Homo sapiens: one gene and its partner. The protein of the gene in region 1 binds, or shares a complex with, the protein of each later gene. Each region holds a gene or a part of one and is shown on either strand. Other genes may lie near its edges. The genes, in order: STRIP2 and PDCD10.

The links.
Region 2: STRIP2 (region 1) and PDCD10 share a complex: the UniProt entries of both Homo sapiens proteins name them as parts of the core of STRIPAK complex.

Annotation. Positions count from the first base shown.
Region 1 is NC_000007.14:129,431,933-129,448,476, reverse strand, and holds the start of STRIP2 (striatin-interacting protein 2), read right to left. Parts: upstream 14,046-16,544; 5' UTR 14,005-14,045; coding exon 13,876-14,004; intron 8,456-13,875; coding exon 8,386-8,455; intron 4,454-8,385; coding exon 4,379-4,453; intron 1-4,378. UniProt on the Homo sapiens protein: Plays a role in the regulation of cell morphology and cytoskeletal organization. Required in the control of cell shape. Calmodulin-binding scaffolding protein which is the center of the striatin-interacting phosphatase and kinase (STRIPAK) complexes.
Region 2 is NC_000003.12:167,688,270-167,696,894, forward strand, and holds part of PDCD10 (programmed cell death protein 10), read right to left. Parts: intron 7,454-8,625; coding exon 7,327-7,453; intron 1-7,326. UniProt on the Homo sapiens protein: Promotes cell proliferation. Modulates apoptotic pathways. Increases mitogen-activated protein kinase activity and STK26 activity. Important for cell migration, and for normal structure and assembly of the Golgi complex.

The DNA of each region.
Region 1 (16,544 bases):
ACCTGGAACCCCCTGAATGAAGGGGAGGCCGGGTTCCCTTGAGGAAGGACCCCACTACATTACCAACAATTTATGCAGTGAATTTTTCTCCCATCCTTCCCCAAGAAGACCTCTGGCCTTTTACTAGGGTAACTGTGCACTGGGGAAAGGGAAATGATCAGACATTTCGGGGACTACTGGACACTGGCTCTGAGCTGATATTGATTCCAGGGCACCCAAAATGTCATTGTGGTCCTCCAGTTAAAGTAGGGGCTTATGGAGGTCAGGTAACTAATGAAGTTTTAGCTCAGGCCTGACTTACAGTGGGCCCCCAGACTCATCCTGTGGTCACTTCCCCAGTGCCAGAATGCATAATTGGCATAGACATACTTAGTAGCTGGCAGAACCCCCACAGTGGCTCCCTGACTGGTAGGGTGAGCGTTACTATGGTGGGAAAGGACAAATGGAAGCCATTAGAGCTGCCTCTACCTAGAAAAATAGTAAGTCAAAAACAATATCACATCCCTGGAGGGATTGTGGAGATCAGTGCCATCATCAAGGACTTGAAAGACAAAGGAGTGGTGATTCCCACCACAACCCTGTTCAACTCTCGCATTTGACCTGTGCAGAAGACAGATGAATCTTGGAGAATGTCAGTGGATTATCGTAAGCTTAACCAAGTGGTGACTCCAATTGCAGCTGCTGTACTAGATGTGGTTTCATTGCTCGAGCAAATTAACACATCTTCTGGTACCTGGTACGTGGTCATTGACTTGGCAAGTGCCTTTTTCTCCATTCCTGTCCATAAGGCCCGCCAGAAGCAATTTGCCTGCAGCTGGCTGGGACAGCAATATACCTTTACTGTCCTACCCCAGAGGTATATCTATTCTCTGGCTTTGAGTCATAATCTTATTCGGAGAGACCTTGATCGCTTTTTGCTTCCACAAGATATCACATTGGTCCATTACATTGATGACATTATGCTGATTGGATCCAGTGAGCAAGAAGTAGCAAATGCAGTGGACTTATTGGTGAGACATTTGTGTGCCAGAGGACGGGAAATAAATCTGATTAAAATTCAGGGAACTTCTACCTCAGTAAAATTCCAAGGATCCAGTGCTGTGGGACCTGTTGAGATATTCCTTCTTAGGTGAAGGATAAGTTGCTTCATTTGGCCCCTCCTACAACCAAGAAGCACAATGCCTAGTGGGTCTATTTGGATTTTGGAGGCAACACATTCCTCATTTGGGTGTGTTATTCCTGCCCATTTATCTGGACCCCACCCAGTTTTTAGTGGGGTCCAGAACAAGAGAAGGCTCTGCAACAGGCCCAGGCTGTTGTGCAAGCTGCTCTGCCACTTGGGCCATATGACCCAGCAGATCCAATGGTGCTTGAGGTGTCAGCGGCAGATGGGGATGCTGTTTGGTGCCTTTGGCAGGCTCCCAGAGATGAATCACAGTGGAGGCCTTTAGGATTTTGGAGCAAGGCCCTGCCATCTTCTGCAGATAACTACTTTACTTTTGAGAGACAGCTCTTGGCCTGTTACTGGTCTTTGGTGGAAACTGAACGTTTGACTATGGGTCATCAAGTCACCATGCGACCTCAACTGCCTATCATGAACTGAGTGCTTTCTGACCCATCAAGCCATAAAGTGGGTCGTGCACAGCAGCATTCCATCATCAAATGGAAGTGGTATATACGTGATCGGGCTCAAGCAGGTCCTGAAGGCACAAGTAAGTTACATGAGGAAGTGGCTCAAATGCCCATGGTCTCCAGTCCTGCCACCCTGGCTTCTTTCCCCCAGCCTGCACTGATGGCCTCATGGGGAGCTCCCTATAAGTTGACAGAGGAAGAGAAGACCAGGGCCTGGTTTACAGATGGTTCTGCACGATATGCAGGCACCACCTGAAAGTGGATGGCTGCAGCACTACAGCCCCTTTCTAGGACATCCCTGAAGGACAGCAGTGAAGGGAAATCTTCCCAGTGGGCAGAACTTTGAGCAGTGCACCTGGCTGTGTACTTTGCATGGAAGGATAAATGGTAAGATGTGCGATTAAATACTGATTCATGGGCTATAGCCAATGATTTGGCTGGATGGTCAGGGACTTGGAAGAAGCATGATTGGAAAATTGGTGACAAAAAAATTGGGGAAAGAAGTATGTGGATGGACCTCTCTGAGTGGTCAAAAACTATGAAGATATTTGTACTCCATGTGAGTGTTCACCAGTGGGTGACCAAAGCAGAGAAGGAGTTTAATAATCAAGTGGATAGGATGACCCGTTCTGTGGACACCAATCAGCCTCTTTCCCCAGCACCTCTGTCATTGTCCAATGGGCCCATGAGCAAAGTGGCCACTGTGGCAGGGACGGAAGTTACGCATGGGCTCAGTAACATGGACTTCCACTCACCAAGGTTGACCTGGCTACGGCCACTGCTGAGTGCCCAATTTGCTAGCAGCAGAGACCAACACTGAGCCCTGGATAAGGCACCATTCCTCAGGGTGATCAGCCAGCTACCTGGTGGCAGGTTGATTGTATTGGACCTCTTCTGTCATGGAAAGGGCAGAGGTTTGTCCTCACTAGAATAGACACTTACTCCAGATAAGGGTTTGCCTATCCTGCAAGCAATGCTTCTGCCAAGACTACCATCCATGGACTCATGGAATGCCTCATCCACCGTCATGGTATTCCACAAAGCATTGCCTCTGACCAAGGCACTCATTTCATGGCTAAAGAAGTGTGGCAGTGGGCTCATGCTCATGGTCTTACCATGTTCCCCATCATCCTGAAGCAGCTGGATTGATAGAACGGTGAAATGGCCTTTTGAAGTCACAATTACAATGCCAACTAGGTGACAATACTTTGCAGGGCTGGGGCAAAGTTCTCCAGAAGGCCGTGTATGCTCTGAATCAGCATCCAACATATGGTACTGTTTTTCCCATAGTCAGGATTCACCGGTCCAGGAATCAAGGGGTGGAAGTGGCACCACTCACCATCACCCCTAGTGATCTAGTAGCAAAATTTTTGCTTCCTGTTCCCGTGACATTACGTTCTGCTGGCCTAGAGGTTTTAGCTCCAGAGGGAGGAAACTGCCACCAGGAGACACAACAATGATTCCATTAAACTGGAAGTTAAGATTGCCACCTGGACACTTTGGGGTCCTCCTACCTTTAAGTCAACAGGCTAAGAAGGGAGTTACAGTGTTGGCTGGGGTGACTGACCCAGACTATCAAGATGAAATCAGTCTACTACTCCACAACGGAGGTAAGGAAGAGTATGCATGGAATACAGGAGATCCATTAGGGCGTCTCTTAGTATTACTATGCCCTGTGATTAAGGTCGATGGGAAACTACAACACCCCAATCCAGGCAGGACTACAAATGACCCAGACCCCTCAGGAATGAAGGTTTGGATTACTCCACCAGGAAAAAAACCACGACCTGCCAAGCTGCTTGCTGAATGCAAAGGGAATACAGAATGGGTAGTAGAAGAAGGTAGTCATCAATACCAGCTACGACCACGTGACCAGCTGGTCATGAGTATTTCCTTCTTCTTTTGTTAAAAACATGTTTGTGCGTGTATACACTTGTATTAATATCTTCATTTTATTTTCTTTCTCCTTTATCATGTGACATAAGATTTATTGACTTCATATCAGCATTTAAGTATTGTTAACTTTATATAATAGTATTTGGGTTGGGGATTGGTGAGTTTCCAGTTGTACAAAGGATATTTATGTTATCCTTTGTACAATTATGTTAGGCATAACTATGCCCTTATTATTGTCTTTAATTGAAGATTATGTATGATCTCAGGAGATGTGTATGAGTTCGAGCTGACAAGGGGTGGACTTGCGATGGTTAATACTGTGAGTCAACTTGATTGGATTGAAGGATACAAAGTATTGATCCTGGGTATATCTGTGAGGATGTTGCCAGAAGAGATTAACATTTGAGTCAGCCGGCTGGGGAAGGCAGATCCACCCTTAATCTGGTGGGCACAATCTAATTAGCTGCCAGCAAATATAAAACAGGCAGAAAAACATGAAAAGGAGAGATGGGCCTAGCCTTTCAGCCTACATCTTTCTCCTGTGCTGGATAGTTCCTGCCCTCGAATATCGGACTCCAAGTTCTTCAGTTTTGGGACTCAGACTGGCTCTCCTTGCTCCTCAGCTTGCAGACAGCCTATTATGGGACCTTGTGATTGTGTAAGTTAATACTTAATAAACTCCCCTTTATATATATCTATCTATTTATCATATTAGTTCTATCCCTCTAAGAGAACCCTAACTAATACAGAGGGGATGAAGGATCGCACTTTGTTTTAGTCTTTTACTAGATCAGGCTGGTATATCATAAAAGGAAAAAGCAGGTCTCTATGAGTAAAGATCTGGAATTACCTTGAGTCTTGAAATCTTCTTCAAAGCACCTCCTGTTATTGGTGAATTCCAGGTTCTCAGTGTAACTATACAATTCTGTGGCAGGAAAGACAGAACAGTCACATTCGGGAGATCCTTAAAGAAGAGGCCCAAAGTAGAGAGGGTGGCATGAAAGAGCTGAAGCTTCCAACACATTCCTGTGTCCAATGAATCCAAAGCTAGCTTCCTCCTTTTCAGAGCAACGTTAAAAATAGCCACTTGTGTCCCTGGGAGATTAAACCATCAAACCTGTCCTCTTCCTGCCAGCTGGCTGCTGCAGCAGAGAAGGCAGCCTTCAACATTTGGTGAGGGCCAAGAGGAGGACTGCAGCACAGAGAGCTTAATCTCATCACTCCTGTTTCTCAGGGCTGCAACTCCTGCTTTGTCAACCCAACCAGGAACTATCCCATCTCTAAGAGAAGAGGAGGGCAACACAACTCCTGAAACTTAGAGGAAAGATCCTTGTGCTGGATCAGGAAACCATGGCAAGGGCTGAAAAGTAAGTGCTAGATGGTTCTTCAGGGTTGGAACCAGTTCATTCTCTCCCTGCTAAGTTTCCTCAAAGGGTATAGAAGTTTAGATTCCTGCCCACAGCCACAAAGCAGAGGCTGCAAAAAAAACTCTAGAGAACAGCTATGGTTGTCAAAGGGCTGCTGTGCCCAGGAAAATCTAACTTTGCTAACAGCAGCCTCTCAATACAAAATGCAAAAAGCTTATGAGAAATAAAAATGCCAGCCACGTGTGATGGCTCAGACCTATAGGATTGTAATCCCAGCACTTTGAGAGGCTGAGGCAGGAGAATTGCTTGAGGCCAGGAGTTTGAGTCTAGCCTGGGCAACATAGCATGACCCTATCTCTACAAAAAATTTAAACATTAGCCAGGTGTAGTGGCACATGACTGTAGTCCTAGCTACTTAGGAGGCTGAGGTGGAGGATCGTTTGAGCTTAGGAGTTTGAGGCTTTAGTGAGCTATGATCATGTCACTGCACTCCAGCCTGGGGTAACAGAATAAGACTCTGTCTCTTAAAAAAAAAAAAAAGAAAGAAAGAAGAAAAGAAATAAAAATGCCCTTTCCTACTCTCTCTATCTCTCTCCAGAACATTGTATATGTACCCTCATCTTACAGAAGATGAAGAACTGAAATACAGAAGTCAACAGATGATAGAACAGATTTCCTTTAAATCTCTGCTCCCTACCTGAGACCCTTCCTGGAAATTTAACCAGGTCACAGGTAATTCACAAAGCAAGAGAAATTCACTTATGTTCCAGCCAGCTGTCTAATGGTTGAGAAACACCTTGTCTGGGAGTCAGGGCTTTTGAGTCTTAAGTTCCAGAATCTAGGAGTGACCAGAAGCAAATCCCATCACTGAATCTTAAATTCTTCAGTCATTAGTGGAGAGGTGAATATATATATTTTTAAGATTAAAGCACCAAAAACCAAATCAGAAAAGTGGGCAAGGCTCTTAGGTACTGAACTTTAGTCTTGGTCTTTTTATTTTTAAATTTTAGATTATGAATTTTTATATACAGGTAAGAACAGAATAGTACATTTAAGACACCTGTGTATTATCTTCTACCCAGGTCAAACAAATGTTAGCATTTGTTATATTTGCTTCAGACTGCTCCCCAGTCTATCTTATTCCCTTCTCCAGAGGCAACTGCTATAATGAAATTGGTGTGTATCCTTCACAAGCCTATTTTTCTACTTTTGCTATATGCACATATGCCTGTAAACATATGATATTGCTCTGTTTAAAAACTTTTTTATCCAAGCAGTATCCTATTGTATAAATTCCTTTGTTACTGATCCTTTGTCCCAATTTTATCTTTAGCATTTATTATTATTATTATTATTTGAGATGGAGTCTCACTTTGTCACCCAGGCTGGAGTGCAGTGGCGTGATCTTGGCTCACTGCAACCTCTGCCTCCCAGGTTCAGGCAATTCTCCTGTCTCAGCCTCCCCAGTAGCTGGGACTACAGGTGCATGCCACGATGCCCAGCTAATTTTTGTATTTTTACTAGAGACAAGGTTTCACCATATTGGTCAGGCTGGTCTCGAACTCCTGACAGGTGATCTACCCACTTCGGCCTCCCAAAGTGCTGGGATTACAAGATGTGAGCTACCGTACCTGGCCAAGCATTTATTGATACTGAAACATGTTGAGGCCAGGTGTGGTGGCTCACACCTGTAGTCCCAGCACTTTGGAGGGCCAAGGCAGGAGGATCACTTGAGCCCAGGAGTTCAGGACCAGCCTTGGCAACATGGTGAGACTCTGTTTCTACAAAAGATAAACAAAATTAGCTGGACATGGTGGCACAAAATTAGCTGGACATGGTGGCACAAAATTAGCTGGGCATGGTAGGGCATGCCTATGACCATAGGCATAGCTACTTGAGAGGCTGGGGTGGGAGGATCACTTGAGCCCAGGAGCTCAAGGCTGTAGTGAGCTGAGAGTGTGCCACTCAAGCGTAAGCAACAGAGCCAGACTCTGTCTCAAAAATAAAAAAATAAAAAATAAATATATTGATTTAGATCAATTATTATTTTAATGGCTATTCAATAGCCTACTGCACTAATATGCTATAGTTTATCCATTTCCCTACTGATGAGCATTGTAGGTTGTTTCCAACTTTTTACACTGATAAACAAGGCTGCAATAAACATCTTTGTACATTTTCTTGTGCCCAAGTGTAATTTTCTTTAGAGTGGATATCTAGGAGTAGACTTGTTGGGTCACAATATGTGCACATCTTCAACTTTGCAAGATATAAGCAAAATGCTTTTCAATTTTATACTCTGCTCCCCCCATGTCTAGCAGTGCATAAAAGTACTAATTTCTCTGCACCCTCACCAACCCCAGGCTTTTAAGTTTTGCACTCTGATGATTGTGAAATAATATTTTATTATTTTAATTTGCTTTTCCCCATATACTAATAAAGTTCAATATCTTCTCATATATTTATTGACCATTTGGCTTTTTCTTCTATAAATTCCCATTTATATTCTTTGCCCATTTCTTTGTTGGGTTGCTCATCTCTCTCCTCTCTTTAAAATATATATATATTTATATCATATTCCTATTATGAATTCTAATCCTTTGTTGGTTATTAAACTTAGCTCTCTATTTCTCTGTCACTCATCACAAAATTTATTCTCTGTGCTCATGCACAAGAACGTCTTTAAAATTGTTTGTCTCTTTTCTCTGAAAAAGCATGCCTCAAAGTATCACTTCCATGTGACAGAATATTTAAATTTCACACATCTCCACCCAAAGCTTGTTTATTAATAACTGGCATTCATAGCACATGTAACATGGAGGCCCTTAATGTGAGGAGATCACATTTACCCTAAGCTAAAAATCCAGACAGAGACAAGCAGGCCAGCACTGAAAGAAGAATGGAATTACTTAACCCCAGCTCATAAACATCCAAGCAGAACTCTACTATGATGGATGCAGGTGACATGTCCAGCCTTGCTCAGCTGGCCAGTTGACTATAGTTTTTCCTCGGACTTTGCTGAGATTTTAATAAGGGGCAGTTGCGAGAGGAAGAAGGAAAAGATGGAGGTAGAGGAGACAAAGGAAAAAGAGATGGCATGGGATAGAAAGAGGGCAGCAGAAAGAAGTAGGCAGGCAAAGATATGGGTGACAGGAAGAGAAAAAGAGAAGGAATATGGAGAAGATGGAGAGAAAACTGATTTGAGAGTGCACCAAATCAGTTATTTTCAAAGAGAATAAAGAAGAGTGAGCAGGAAAGAGTGATAGAATGACAGAATGAAGAATACCATAGCCAAGGAGAATCACAGAAGGAAATGTGAAGACAAACAAAGAGATATTTACCACTTGGATGGAGAGGAAAAGGAATGTGGAGAACAGCCTTTGTTCAACAGCCACTTGGTGAGAACAGACAAGCTTCCAGGGAGATCACAGGCCCCTTCCCTCTCCTCCTGGCCATTCTTCCACTAGCTACTGACCCATCTACCTCATACCTGACAACTCGGCTGCATGCCCATCTGCATCTCCATACTCAAACTCCAGAGTGGGACAGTCCACAGAGCCCTGTAACAGAGAAATTTTGTTGGTAACTGGGATAACTTGGAAAAAGGGGTTGCCAAGGGAAGACTGTACCCTTATTTATCTTCTTCCCCTCATGGAGGCCAAGGTTAGATCAGGGAGACAGTTAGGAGAGTCCTATTTGGGTCTTTCATCTCAGAGGTACCCTACGCCAAGCCAAAACTTGAGTCTCAGTGTGGGGAGGGGCTGAGGATTCCTATACAAAATCGGAAAGTCTGAATAAAGGGCCAGGATCTCAAACATATATGAAAGCTATGGTCTGTGTCCATATCTAATCTACATGAACACAGACCAGAGGAGCATCTAGCTGATTTATATAAAATTGAGACAGACAGAAACAAAGAGAACTGGATTCTAGCTTCAGTTCTGTCATCAACCCACTGTATGATATAGATCAAGTCTCATGCTGTGGATCATAGTTCCTTATTTTTAAAGAGGTTCTTTAGCTCTAATATTCTGCAACTTTAGGATTGTCAAATGATGCAACATCTCCACTCCAAGTTGTAGTAAAGATTACATTTCCCATGACGTTGTATGTATAAATTTATAATCCTAGTAAATATGTTTTAATATAATCCCATCTTCTAACTTAAACATTTTGGGATATTTCCTTCCTGTATATGTTCATACATATGAATTTTTAAAATTTTCAATCTCAGCTCTGTCACATACTATTTGATCTTGGACAAGTTAACCTCTCTGTGCCTCAGCGTGACATAAAAAATATACTGTTCTTTGCCCCTGGTTCCTGGTACAGAGCTCCTGAAACTCTTAGAAGTTCCTGAGTGATAGGAGTGTCAGTTATTCATAATGAGTCACTGTCAGCTTTACCAGAATTTATGCTCATGAGGTGACTTATGTTAGGAAAGACGGAGCACATGATTAGAGGGTTTAACTTTCAGCACCACCCCCACATCCAGGGAGGGGAGGGGTACTACAGATTAAGTTCAGTCATGTGGCCAATAGTTTAATTATGTCTAGGTAATGAAACACCATAGGAAAACCCAGAAACAACTAGGTTCAGGCAGCTTTTGGGTTGGGGAACAAACAGATGTGCTAGGAGAGTGCTGCCCAGGGAAGATAAGGAAACTCTGCATCACCCCAAACCCATACTTCGTCCTTCGCATCTCTTCCATTTAGCTGTTTCTGAGTCATATCCTTTATAATAAAATTATAATTCTAAGTACATGCTTTCCTGAATCCTGTGAGTTATTCTAGCAAATTATGGAACCTGAAAGGAAGATCATGATAACCGCTTAATTTGTAGTTGGCCAGGCTGAAGTGTAGATAGCTTGGGGATCCCACCTATGGCTGGTGTCTAACGTAGGGCCTTGTAGGACTGAGCCCTTAACTTGGGGGTCTGTGCTAATTCTAGGTAGTTAGTGTCAGAATCGAATTGAACTGTAGGACATCCAGTTGGTGTCAGCGAATTGTTGGAAAATGACCTGCTCAGTTTTCCCATCTGTAAAATGAGGATAATAACAGGACTTACTTCATAGGGTTATTTTAAGGACTAAATGAGTTAATATAGGAAAGGCACACGGCCTAGCACTTCGTAGCACTATGTGAGTGGTCACTCTATGATTTTAATATTATACTATAAAGGCATTCTTCTCACATTATTATGACTATTAGTTTAAATGGTTGTATAAATGGATGTACATTTATTTGTTTACTTAACTAGTTCCTTATTGAATATTTAAATGGTTTTTAATTTTCCTTTATTATATGCAACAAACTGTAATAGACTTACACTTTTTTCTATATTTAGGATATTTCCTAAGCATAGATTTTTATAAAGAAAATTAATGAATCAAATCTTATGAACATTTTAAAGTCTCTTTGTATATAAGTTGCTCCCCCAAAACATTATGCCAATTTATACTGTCAACAAAGCAAATTGGCCGGGCGCAGTGGCTCACGCCTGTAATCCCAACACTTTGGGAGGCCGAGGTGGGCGGATTACGAGGTCAGGAGATCGAGACCATCCTGGCTAACACGGTGAAACCCCGTCTCCACTAAAAATACAAAAAATTAGCCGAGCATGGTGGCGGACGCCTGTAGTCCCAGCTACTCGGGAGGCTGAGGCAGGAGAATGGCGTGAACCCGGGAGGCAGAGCTTGCAGTGAGCCGAGTTTGCGCCACTGCACTCCAGCCTGGGTGACAGAGTGAGACTCTGTCAAAAAAAAAAAAAACAAAAAAAAACAAGGCGAATCATGTTTTAATCCACTATAGCAAAGATTTCCAAACTTTTGGATTAAAAGGAACAGTAGGGAAAAAGAAAAAGGTGGAGAGTGGCAAATGACATAGGGTTGTTGCTGTTTTATTCTGATAGGTAAGGACTTTAAAAACTTTAAAAAATTCAAAAAATGAAAGACAGAATCTCAGAATAAAGAACAGCCATTAAAAATTGTTTTTCAAACTTTTTGGAAAAATGATACCTTTTACATTACGTCCCAGCACACACACACACACACACAAACTGGAACAAAAGTTTAACAAAATATTTACCTTTACTGCATGTGATGCAGTGATATTTTCTATTATTCTCTTTCTTTTCTTTTTTTTTTTAAGACAGGGTCTTCCTCTCACCCAGGCTGGAGTGCAGTGGCATGATCACAGCTCACTGCGGCCTCAACCTCCTAGACTTAAGTGATTCAGCCTCCTGAGCAGCTGGGACAACAGGCGCGCACCATCATGCCTGGCTAAATCTTTTTTATTTTTTATTTATTTGTAGAGATGGGGTCTGCCTACATTTCCCAGGCTTGTCTCGAATTCCTGGCTGAAGCTACCCACCTGCCTCAGTCTCCCAAAGTGCTGGGATAATAGGCATGAGCCATCATGCTGGCTTTATTTCTTAAAATAAAAATTTTAGCCTCAATTAACAGGTTGCCCCCTATAGCAGTTTGAAAAACACTGTTTTAAATTGTATACATTCTTAAATTTAATATATTGAACTAAATTTTTAGAAAAACTCACTTCGATGACCTGAATTTTCCTCATTTTACCACAGACCAGTTAAAACTTTGTCAAGGAGTTTGAGATCAATAAACCAGATCTGGCTAAAAGAGGTCTGAGGTGAATCCTTTTATTAGGTTAAGACTCTTCTTATTAAGCAAACAATTATTCTTTAGCTTCCTTTTTAGGTTGGGATGTTCACACACTAAGCCAGTGGGAGAAGGTAGGTCAACAGTGCTTCCATAAACAGTGATACACGATGAGGCTCTCTTGACTTGTGCCACAGTAATTCTCTTCTAGTGATTTTCTAAAAGCCCTAGAGAGGAAAAAAATCCCATCTCCTCTAAGGACTGCCTTCCACAGGAAAGCAAAAAGAGGGAGAGAAGAAAAGCAGATCTGGCACCTGGGTACTGTGGTAATAGGGGATGTACTGGCAGGTAAAAGGAGTCCTGCTGCAGCAGAAGGTAGAGGAAAGCTAATCTTTCCAGCCAGGCTTTTGGCAGGCAATGAGCCCAGATAGAGATGATCGCAGCAGTTGTTCATTTCCAGGCATGAAGAGTGCAGCTGCAGACAATCAGCAGGTAAACCGCGGTGCAGGTGGAAAGCTTTCGAGTCTCTGGACACTGCAAAGTACTGGCAAAAGCAAAGGACTGTACTCTCAGAGCCTTTGCCTGAAGAAGACTTGACAGGTGGGGAACAGATTGCAACTTTAGAAGGGAGACCCAGGCAGAGACTTTTATTCCCCCCATAGAACATATCATTCTGAAATTATTTTATTTATTTACTCACAATTTGTCTCCCCATGGGCGAAGACCCTATCTTGTTCACTGATATATCCCTGGCACCTAAAACAGTGGCTGGCAGAAAGTCCTCGATAAATAATTGTTGAATTAATGAATGGCTCATCTCCCCAAAAAAACATTTGAACGAGAACAATGTCTCTGTGGGGGAAGGAGGTACAGGGTGCCCTAAAAGACCAGACTCATCTTGAAGTAGGGAGGGAGATGATGTGGCGGGTATCATCTAGCAAGACAGGAGGGCTGAGCTCTCTGCCTCTGCAAGGTGGTGACTTTGGGCCAGTCTTTTCATCTCCATTTCTACCTTGAAAAAAAATGAATGGATTCCTCCTACTCTACCTACATCAAAATGTAAAGCATACATGAAATCACTTTGGAAACTGAAATGCTATTCAAATGGTAAGGCAAGGTCTGGGATGCCAAAAACCTGGTTTCTAGTACCAGCTCTGCCACTTGATGATGATGATGATGATGATGATAGCAATATACTAAGAGTTACTATGTACTGACTAATTACATGCATTGTGCCTGCACTGTGCCAAACATTTTATAGTCAATTATCTCATTTTGACTTTATCACAACCTTCTGAGGTAGGCAGTGTTAATCTCATCTTACAGATGAAGAAACTGGAGCTCAGAGAGGTTCCGTAATGTGCCGAAAATCACACAGGTAGTAAATGATAGGGCTAGGAGTCAAAACCTGGTCTGACTACTCCAAAGTCTGGTGTTCTTGACCACCAACTATGCCAGATGTCTGATCTTGGGCAAGTCACTCCTCTTTTTTTTAGGTCTGTAAAATGAAAGGGTTATACCAGATGATATCTGCAGACCCTGCCACATCTGATATTTTGTCGTCTATTCTGATCCCCGCTCAGATCCAACTGATGGGAACTGCCTCAATGAGGGGATAGGGAAGTGATAATAATTCAACGCTTTCATCTTCATAGATAGGGTTTCTTTTTTCAGGAGAGGAGGAAGAGATCGAAATATTCACACTCCTATCTGTATCCTGCGACTGCTCCCTCCAGATAGCCACTCCAGGACTGCCCCTGCCTGAATCCCGTCTCGCTCAGCCCTCACAGGCAGGGGCCTGATGTCCGCGGAAGGCGCTCCCGAAACGGCCTAAGACTTACGGGGGGAAGGGGACGGGCAGGGAACGGGCAGAAGTCCCTCGGCTGGCCCAGGGGCCCGCCGCAGGCAGCCTGGGAGGGGGACTGCGGTTGCCCCACTCGCCAATCCTGCTTTCCTGCGGCTGAGCTCCAGCCTCCCACCCCTCAAGCCAGTCACTTAACCTCTCCGCTCCTGTTCCCCCGTCTATAAACTGGGATCGGAATTTCTGCTTCAGGGGGCTGCAGCGATTAAGTGAGATAAATATTTGGAAAGTATCTGGTCCGCTCAATACCGCGCTCATCTTCGCGCAGCGGGGGAAAGCCAGAGGGCTAGAAAGCCCCCAACCCGCGGCAGGAGACGGGCGGACACTGGTCCGGGCCAAAGAGCCCAGAGTTCAGCCGCTAGGACCCCGCAGGCGCCCACTGCGCGGGGCTGATCGAGCGCGCCGAGGGCTCCGGGGCCGAGGCCGAATCACCTCAGCCGCCGCTTCCCGCCGGCGGGCGTCTCCGGGCCCCAGCCGAAGCTTTCCGGGCTCCTCACCTCTGACTCCCGCCGCTGGCTTCGGAACGCTTCGCGGCCCTTGGGCGCCGCCTGCTTCCCTTTGCCGCCGCCGTTGCCATTGCCATTTGCGGGCGGGCCCCCGGTCCCAGGCGCGGCGGGGTCCTCCATGCTGCTGGTCAGCGGCTCCCCTCAGGGTTCAGCTCGCTTTGCCGGAGGCGACCCTACCGCCGCGCGCCGGGAGCCAGGCCCCGCCCCCTCCACCTCTATTGGTTACGGCAGCTCGCCGCAACCCCGCCCCGCGAGGCGATTGGCTGCTCGACCGGCCGGAGCGGGACTCGAGGAGGTGGGGGCTCAATGAAGAGATTTTTGAGGGGATCTTTTTAGTCCTGCGGCATTGCTGGCGGACGGAGACTCCTAGGTTAGCTACAGGCTCCACACCTCGCGAAAGCTGGGCCTTGAGATCAGGCGGGTTATCTCTGTGCTCCTCACTCGGTGTCTCTCAGCTCTCACCCCCGTCCCTGTAGCGACCTTTTCCGGAGCTCTAGTCTCCGCCTACTGCTCCACAGCAGTCTCCGTTTCCCTGTTACCACCGACCCGGCCCCCCATATCCCGGCTCCTGCACACGTCCCATATCCCGCTTAGTCTCAGGGGAGGGATGGCACCGCCAGGTGGCCAGGGACATCGCCCGAAACGAGGGACTCGCTGTCTCTGGAAGCTGAGAATTCTCAGCGTTTTTCTGAAGAGAACGCATCTCGCCCGGAGCTAGGGCTTGGCTGGGAGACTGGAGGTCTAAGGGTGGGATGGGGGAGTTTTTCCATCACTGAAATTGGTGGTGCCCTCGAGGGCTGCTCCTGTCATCTGCCCTTCTCTGCTGTAGGGGGCCTCTTCCTCATGGTGTGTAAATGTTGAGGGTAGAGCAAGCCCCCACCCTCACCTGCTCGCCAGTCCTTTCTTTCCTTCCTCTCTCTTAGATGCTTCCTAAGGGCTCATTGTTACTGGGGGCAAAAGAGGCTGTTTGATCTGCCCTCTCCTGAATTTAAAAAGTAGCTTGTAGTAAATATTTAGACAGTCTGGCTTGGTAATAGAAGCCCCAAAGACGTAGGCTCAGGGGAACAGGTGGGACCAAATCGCTGTCCCCAGCCTGGTTGCTTTAGGAAGGGTCTGGGGGATTGTTGAACTGAGCTTGGTGCCAGGCACTGCAGTAAGCGCTTTCCAAATATCACATCATACCTCTCCCCGACAGGGTGTTTTTACGAATCCAATGTTACTGATGAAGAAACCGGCACTTGCAGATTCCTCCCTGCGGTTTCCAAGGTATCATATTCTATCTTGTCTCAGGGTCTTGCCTATGCTGTTCTCTGGAGGAGACTGTCTTCTGTTCTCCTGGTTGATTCCTTTTCTCTCATAAAGATTCTAGTTAGTTGTCACCTCCTCCTCCTCCACAAAGCTTTCCTTTTAGCCCTCAACTCATTCAGGTTGTGTTGGTGTCAAACCAGTTCTGCCTAGATCCAAAATCCTAACATTTTCCACGATATACCCAAAGCAAAGGGCCTAGAGGAATTACTCCACCTTCCCATACCTTAGGGACAACCCTGTCCCTTTCTTAACATCTCTCTCTCTCTCTCACTTTTCCCTTTGCCAGTTCATAGGCGACAGAACAAGGCAAGTTTGAGAGCACTCTTTGGAGCTTTTTGGGTTTTCTCACCCTGGTCCAATATCTCCTTACTGTACCTTCACATCTTCCTTTTCCTCTTCCAGTCCCACTCCTCTCCCCACCCACATATAGGCTCCTAGCGAGTAAGACCAAATTTAGCTCATTTTTGTATGCCCCTAATTTATGTACGTTTAACGCAGCGTTTCACAGTCTCTGTACTATTGACAATTGGGGCTGAATATTTATTGTAGGGGGCTGTCCTGTGCATCGTAGGATGCTTAGCAGAATACCTGGCCTCTCTTCACTAGATGCCAGTAGTATCCTCCCGCTAGTGCGACAACCAAAAATGTCTCGGGGCGGGGGGCTGGGTGTGGGGGGTGGGGAGTGTGGCGTTTACAGAACTGAATTGATATGAATTTCCAAGAAAGTCCCTGGCTCAAGGCCTGAACTACTTGACTTTGGATTTTTTTCAGGGTATAATTTGTTAAACTCTTAAAAATTTACACCCTGCTTTAAAGTTCACAACCCACGCCTTGCTCATCACTGCTTCAGTGTGGTAAACCTGCCACAGCACAGCCCATTGGGATTTCTTAATAGAAAGAATTCATTATTCTATCTCTCTTCTTCCCAGTACTTCTCCTCCTAAGTAGTCAGAGCCCTAAGGTTAACAGGCCCAGAACTTCATATTCTTTTGTGAGCCTAATCAATCGGCAGGATCCCAACAGTGGTAGCAGACAGGAGTGGCCAGTTTTGATGCTTTATTCTTTTCCTGCCTATTCCTAGGGGAAAGGGCAGACTGATCTTGGGAGTAGGATAGAGGACAGCTTGCAAGTCCCCTCTGGTGGCTATCTAAAGCCACTTGCTAAGCCTAGAGGCTCCATCTGGCTTTAATTTCAGAGAAGGAATGTGTAAAACTGGTGCTATGAAGATTGCATAGAGTCAACACGAGGAGAGACCTCAATCCATGATCTTTTCCACATCTCAGCGAAATAGAATACCTTTACTAAGATCAGACACCTATGTGCTCACTATAGGCCCAGACGTTCAAAATTTC
Region 2 (8,625 bases), on another chromosome or scaffold:
ACAGACACTTTTAGCTTCTATCTAGCAGCCAAATATCCTCCTCTTTCAAACACTTACTATCAGTCACTATTCCCTTTGGAAAATATTTAAATTACTAGAGGAGACAACATCACAATATTCTTGCACTTTAACCTTCCCAGCAATCATCCTTTGACTATATATGCATCATCACCTCCCTCCCCTTTCTAAAGAAAAAAAAGAAGAAATGAATAATTCTCATTTGAGTTGACTGTTCTTCCTATCCATGCACCATTTTTTCTGAACTTTTTTTTGCCTTTCTAACTAGCCCCTTTTGATTTCCACATTTTAACCTCATAGCAATTTTTTTCCGCCAAATTGAACTTGATGTAATTCTGCATTCTCAAATAGTCTCACATTCTCTGCGACAAACCTTCTTTTTCACAGTCATTCTCTTAGCTGTTAGTCACAACAAAAACTTCAAATGCAATGCAACTGTGAAGAAATGAATAAGATGGAAATCTGCACCATCCTAAACATAACATTTTATTACTAATACTAATTACAAATGCCAGATTTCAGTTATTTCCTATCTAAAACATTTCAACATTCCTATTTCAAGGGGAAAAAAACCTCAGTGTCCAGGTTTCTGTGTGCATGTGGGTGTTTCCCAGCATATTTTTCAGTAAATAAGCTTGTAGAAATTTTAAGAATTAAAAGCATACAGAATTTTGATATTTTTTAAAAAAGTATTTTAGAGTACTCTGAAGTAGTAATTCCATTTTCATTGATTATTTCAATAATATTTTACTTATTACCTCTCTCAGGTCAAACACTGGTATTGGGCTGAAACATTGAAACATTACATATTCAAGTAGGACAGTAAGTCTTACATAAATGTTATCTAATTTTTTTTTGCCTCTGGTTTAGTAACAGCAGTTTTTAATTAGATAACTATTCCTTTCATTTATGGCTTAAGTTGAATCTTTGTATATTGGTGTGATGGACATAAACCCACTATTGTTTAATAAAATGCTGTCATAGGACTATTCTGTGAGAAAAATTACAATTTCAACAAATAAAACATGTCAAATCTCTAAATATGCAAGCTTCTCCAAATCCACAATGGAGTTATTTAAAATGGAATATAATGGAGCAAATTACATAGTGATCAGACAGAAGTTTATATAGTCTTACTTTGTAGTGTATTTCAATATTCTGCTAAAGAGGAATAAAATGTGTTTCCGGGGCTAGTCATCAAAATGAGCGTATGTTTCATATACAATAACAGTGGCTAGATTCTACAAGTCAAAAGAGTGGGTCTGAAACATGTTGCCTCATGCACCTAGGGAGACAAAAACACAGGGGAGAAGAAGGGAGGGTTTTGCTGGACAAAAAAAGAAAGACCTGCTGATAAATACTGGAAATCTCTATTTTAAAAGGGGGTGGGGGGAGGCGCAACTCCTCAGGTGACTGCTGATGAGTCAGGTTTGAAAACTTGGAGCTAAGGTTTAATGCCTTATTGGAACAGAGCTCTCTGTCAACCAAGGCCATTTATTCCTAAGCCTCTGTTTGGACACGAGGCAAAAGACTGTTAAATGCCTACCAAATTGTAGAAAAAATGTTCTCTAGAAACAATCTGCAGCAATGTATGTCAAATATTATGTTATCCATATGTACACAGAAAAGTATTTTCATTTATGGCACCAAGGTGTGCACATAGAGAAGCTAAATTATATTAGTAACTACCAGAGAGTTTGTTTCCTACGAGAGAAAATACCAGGACAAAAAAACCACTATAGACAATTAACCAGATAAAGAACTGAGAAAAAACTTGAGGGTAAAATAAATATCGCATAACTAATGAATGCGGCTTGGTGCAGATGAATTCTGTGATAAGAGGCAGATAGTATGAGTAGAAGGAGAAGGAACTTAGCAATTTGCACCAACCTAATAGCGCAGCTTTGCGAAACATTACACTGAAAGGCAAAGGCTTCAGATGAAACGTAAACATACATCTTATCAAAAAACTGCAATAGAAAAGTAGAGTTTCTAATCATGCCACCCAAATTTGCATGATACGCATTTATGCAAATGCACTAATGAAAGGGAATCCCTGTGCTTTATGTTGAGTTTGGTTTAGACTGGAAAACTCTGAAAAAATCTATTCTGAACCCTTCATGAAAACTCCTAACTTAAAACAAATAAACCTTGCTGAATTTTAGCCTAAGAATATGCAAATGCAGATTACAAACAGTAAATAAATGCCTGGCTTTTTTATTTTGGTCTGTTAAATCACGAGTCTCCACTAGTTTTCCATTAGTTGAGATGTATTGGACTTCAAAAAAAATACAAATTAATTTTATAACATATTTGCATAGCTCAAATGTACTCAGGCACACACATTCATTGATCAAAAGGCCTTTTGAAATATTTGCTGGATCATTTTTCCTTATCAACTCCATTGAGAAAAGGGAGGAAAATCCTCATTTCACAATGTTATTATAGCATGTACTGTTGAATGTATGCTAGGTTCTGTGCTAGGCACTTCATGTACATCATTTCTTTCAATTCTCACAAGTCATTACCCTCATTTTCAGAGGCACAAACTAAAATGACAGAAGTTAAGCAACTTATATCCAAGGTTACATAGCTAAATGTTGGAACACAGATTCAAATCTAGGTCTGCTAATATATTCAAAATTGCCTGAATATTTATTAGCTGTCAGGATTCTTTTTTACTTGTACTTTGATACAATCTATAGCATCACCTATAGTACTTGGTGTAATATGTATATGACATATGCTTATTGAAAAATGTTGCTAAAATGAATAAAGGGGATAACTACCTTAGATATAAGAAAGTAAAATATTGGAGAAACGCCTGAAGAAGAAATCATTTTCTATTTTAGTGCAATTTTATCCACTAATTTGTCAATTAATAATGGTAAGAACATACATGAAAATGTACCAATATATGACAGTGATACAAATAATTATACTTTAGCCTATCTATGCTATTCATATGTGGTTGAATTTTAGTCTCAGAAATAACATACATATCAACAAACTTGCCAGGGCAAATTATCCCTCCTCAAATGGTTAGGAAGTAAATTTTCATTGCCACCATTACTCTTAATTCAATTGTGCTAAATTAGTACACTCTAGAAAACAGAACTGAAGTATTATTACTCCCTCATAAAGAAAACAACACCCTAAAGAAAGCCTCTGTCAATGACTATAGACAAGACTCTTAAGCTCAATTTCCTTATGACTAAAATGTGCTGCTAATAATGTGGTTTTCAAACCGCAGCTCCCTAGAGTCACAGACGGTTTAGCAGAGATGTCTCAGGGACTCTGTAGGGGGAAAGAGGATGTCAAAGTGACAGGATGAGAGCTCTGGGCCTACATTTCTATGCCAGTTTCAACCACAATACTGTTATCTCTCTCACGTACTGGCATTCTATGTTAAAATATCCTTTTTCACATTTCTTTCAAATGGCAGAAACTCTATTTTTCAATCTCCAGATTACATCAACATTGGAAGTCTGTGATTGGGAAACAGCAGTGAACACCTGGCATTAGATTGCCTGGGTTCAAATCCAGCTCTACCACTTAATAGGTAAGTTCTGTGGCCTTACCTAATTTTCTGTGCCTGCTTCAATTTCCTCACTTGTTACTGGGTTGTTGTGATAAGTAAATAAATGTAAAGTGATTAAAATAGTGCTTAGCATATAATAAGTCCTATATAAATGATTGTTATTAAGATGACATTGATTATATAAACCTACTTCGATGATCTGAAGCAAAATCTGCTGCAAATATTATTTTAAATGTCAAATCTTCATAGAAATGTGTCATGGCTCATCAACAAGTACACGATTATCAAAGCAAATGAAAACTTACCAAATTATTTCAAAACTTTAGAAATAAATAGTCTAAACAACTAAGTTTGGGATCACTGACAATTTATCCTTTTACAGGCCAAACATGTTTACTTTAACTATACAGGGCGAGTATCCCTTAAACAAAATGCTTGAGACCAGAAGTCTTTAGACCTGGGGATGAGGCCCAAGTATAAACATGAAATTCATTTATGTTTCATAAAGTGCATCCATATATGCATACATTTTGTGCATACAACAAAGTTTTGATTGTGTTTTGACTACAACCCATCCATCACATGAGGTCAGACGTGGAATTTTCCACTTATGGTGTCATGTCACGGTGCTCAAAAAGTTTTGGATTTTGGAGCATTTAGAATTTGATATTCAAATTAGGGATGCTCAACTTGTACCAGATTAAAAATAAAACTCCATGAACAGTTGATTATCTTCCTCCTTCACATATTAAAAGTAGAAAAGGAAGCTGGGGCTTTCCCATAGGAAAGGTAAAATACAAAACCCTTAGGCCAGGCGTGTTGGCTCACACCTGTAATCCCAGCACTTTGGGAGGCCAAGGCAGGCGGATCACAAGGTCAAGAGATCGAGACCATCCTGGCTAACACAGTGAAACCCCATCTCTACTAAAAATACAAAAAATTAGCCAGGCATGGTGGCGGGCGCCTGTAGTCCCAGCTACGCTGGAGGCTGAGGAAGGAGAGTGGCATGAACCCGGGAGGCAGAGTTTGCAGTGAGCCGAGATGGCGCCACTGCACTCCAGCCTGGGCGACAGAGCAAGACTCCGTCTCAAAAACAAAACAAACAAACAAAACAAACAAAAAAACCCTTAGTGTTTGTCCCTTGTGACACAGATTTTGGCTATTCAATTAAAAGCCTTTTTTATATTCCTGGCCCTTAATTATTGTCAAAGAGTAGGGTCATTCCTTGATAGCTGGGTTGCATACCTATCACGAACCATTATTTTCTATGGGACATATTCCTCTCTTTATGTGACTCAAAAGAGAGTATCCAAACTAGCTAGGTATCCAAACAAGCTAAAATAGCATTTCTCAATGTGAATGACAAAGAATACTATTTTCAAAAGATGAATGTTTTCTTTTTCTTTCATAATTGAGATTTCATCAGTTGTGTTGAGGATCAGTACACAGACATTTCAACTTGTACATAATTCTGAACATATGTACTGCAAAATCTAAAAAGCCACGTATCATTATTATTCTCTAAAGTTATTCCAGTGACTTTCCAGCTTACAACTGAGGCAAAATTACCTTAAAAGGCTATCAAGTACCAGTACCTTCAAATGTTGATAAGCTGTCACATACGTCCCACCAATTCACAATTTAATAGCATATACACTATATACTTTAATCTTTCACAGCACATTAACAAAGTTATTAGAAAAACAGGACTACCATGACCAAAGATGTTACAGAGTGCACACAATTCTGATAGGTAGAGCCAGGCTCAAGGAGTGGTTTGCCCAAGGAAACAATTCCACTAAAAAACAACATGAAGAGTAGAAGTAATTTAAGGCCAGGTGTGGTGGCTCACTCCTGTAATCCCAACACTTTGGGAGGCCAAGGCAGGAGGATCACTTGAGCTCAGAGGTTAGAGACCAGCTTGGGCAATGTAGGGAGATGTGGTTATCTACTAAAAATTAAAAAAAAAAAAAAGAAATTAGCTTGGTGTGGTGTTGTACACCAGTAGTCCTAGCTACTCTGGAGGCTGAGGTGGAAGGACTGCTTGAGCCCAGGAGGTTGAGGGTGCAGTAAGTTATGATCATGCCACTGCAGTCCAGCCTGGGTGACAGAGTGAAGTAATTAAAAATGTTCAAGACATGAAATGCAGGACTGCGACTCCACTTTGCCATTTAGTATGCTTTATATTATGGGATATAAAAACTAACCACCCATCTATGGAATGTTAAGCTGACACCCATAACAGTCAAGGCTTCCCATAATTCAATATCCAACATTATTTTCCCATTGTACCAAAAAATAACCAGCAAATTAAATTATTTCACCTCTTTAAAAAAAAAAGCATTTACACTTAAAAAATGGAATGCAGTGGAATTCCCTCCTTAAATGTTTCTAGAGCTATTAAAAAACATTAGAGCTACTAAAAAACATGCATTTACAACATAGTTGATAAAAATATTCTCCTGGATTATGTAAGAAGAGAGACGGGGAACCACTGATAAGACATGGTATGCGATATTAATCAGACTGGGCTTCTTTCTCTCCTGCTTCAGAGGCTGGACTCTCTTCAGTTTTAGTTTTTCTGTTTTCTGCAGGTAAATCTTTATTCTTAGCTACTTTGGCTTGTTTTCACTTTCCTACTCTTTTCTCTTTTGTTTGCACTTTTTTGCCTGAAGATTTATCTTTTCCTGCTACCTTTTGGGGCTTCAATTTCCACTACTGAAAGAGCAGGTTTAGCTGACAACCACATCAATCTCCTTTTGGGATCTTCCCTCACTGTCCCATCAGCTGAGCTGACCGTCCTCTTGGGCATCCTGGAAGTGGGGAAGGCGCATATCAGATGCATGTGGGCCATGGCATGCTGAGGGCCTTCACAAAGCTGGGCTGCCTGGCTGCTGCCACTCCTCCCACTGCCCAAACTCCAAAAGATGAATGTTACTATTTATTCCAAGTGAGTCTCCTTAGGTTCTTCAAAGTTACCACATATGTCACAGCCTCTTCCAGAAAAAGACCTGCGCTAAATCTTTTCTCCCCAGCAATATCTACCTATGGTTTCACCAAAACCATGCATTGATAGTGACACTGCAAGTATTCCCAGCTTTCTTTGTTTTTTATCCACTGAGGCTGAAGAAAATTATCAGACTTTCTAGTTTAAAGATACTTATGTAGGGATTATGTTTTCACTCAATCCCCTACCCTCTCACCCTTCACTGTACTCCAGAAGAGTGTCCCTGGTCTGAGAACTACTGCTCTAGGATGACCCTTCTTGCTGCTGCTCACCAGCCAGCCTTCTGGCCCCATGAGTATTCTTGGTCTTATTTAACCTATATCCCCCAAAGGCAAGGATTTAGAGGCTATTTGGTCAGTCTTAGAAAACACTACTCATGCCTAAGAGTACGTTACTTACCTTAATGACTGCTGCTATTTCTGAAATAAAAATTATTTTGGTATATCTTACTACCAATCTCTAGGATATATCCAGTTTCTCTATTCATTTATCTGACATTTATATCTTCCCATCATTTATGTAGTTCAAACTACATTCCAGTTTATGCACATTTCATTGTTGTTTTAAAATTAAACATTCTAAAAAATGCTGTACTCTGAAACCAAACGCCATAAAGTTAATAAAATGTGGTATTTAAAAATTTGAGATTTTATTTCAAATAAGCATTTCAAGTTAGTCATACCAAAATTAAAAAATGTAGATGAGTAGTTCCTCGGAAGTACTTTTAAGAAAAGAAGAAACAAAACAAATAATTGCTTACTTGATTGTCTGCAGAAACCTCACTCTGTCATTGATCTCATCTGGGATCTTACTGAGAATTTGTTTAAGTGCTCGTGCCTTTTCGTTTAGGTCTTGGAATTCTGGCTCTGGTCGTTCAATCATATACTCTGATAAAATAAATACATAATAAAAAACATCCTGCGACTCTCTGCCAAATTCATCACATCTAAGAATTTCCAATGTTGGTCAAAGGCAGGTGAGGGAGGTGAAAGGCCAGATAATTAGGAAAGACAAGGTTGCAAAGCAGAATTCATTAGCGTTTGACTTAGTCCAGTAACAACAGCAGGGCTCCCTTCAAGTAAAGTATCACAAAAAGAAAGAATAAATATTTTCAATTTGGGACAAAAGGACATCCCATGAAATCTTAAAAAAAAAAAACACACAAAAAAAAAACAGATTTAAAAGGGAGGCTTAAGTTCAACCGTACTCTGACATTACATTTCCCAAGGAAACCTTAAATTAAATAATGAGTGTCATAACTAGTGCAAAGGTAATATCTACTTGCCAACTGGAAAGATTAAAAATTTAAAACCCCTATATTTAATATACATTGCTTCATCATATTAAAACCCCAAATAATCTAATAAAATCTTCTACACATTTTTGAAATCTCACTTAAAAACAAAAACACCAGCACAAATCCAACACACAGGCTGGGATCACAGAACACCAATTTTGGAAAGGAGACTTCACTAGATTCATTGCAGACTTGGAAGCATTACAACTCTACCAATTCATCAATATATTATGGCCTAATGGGCTGCAAATGCTCAACTCTAAATAATGATAAGGGCTTTCTTAAAATCATGGAATCAGTTAAAATACCTGCTTTGTGTTCTTCCTTAATAATTCTGGGAAATTATATGTCCATATTTTTCTAAATTAGTGGGAAAACTGCTACTAAACTTAAGTAAAACCAACGTCTAAATAATTTCAAGTAAAAAAAATAAGAAAAGTAAAAAGGATGGTTATATTATTCTCTTAAATCTGTGCTTGAAACACAGATGCTGTACTAAAGTTAAAAAAACAACAAAACAAAAACCTCATTACTTTCAAACTGTTGTTTGCTTAAAGTCAACACATTCCAAATAAGCTTATCTTTTAGTAAAACTGAAACTCACCAAACATAAAGGGGGGAAAAATTGAAGTATGCAGCATAAACAAAGTTCAAGTAATTAAATCTCACAAATATAAAAAGCAAGAAAAACCATTTTTCTATTTTATCTACATTAGCTTCCACTATCACTATCACCACCACCACCATCATCATCATAAGTGA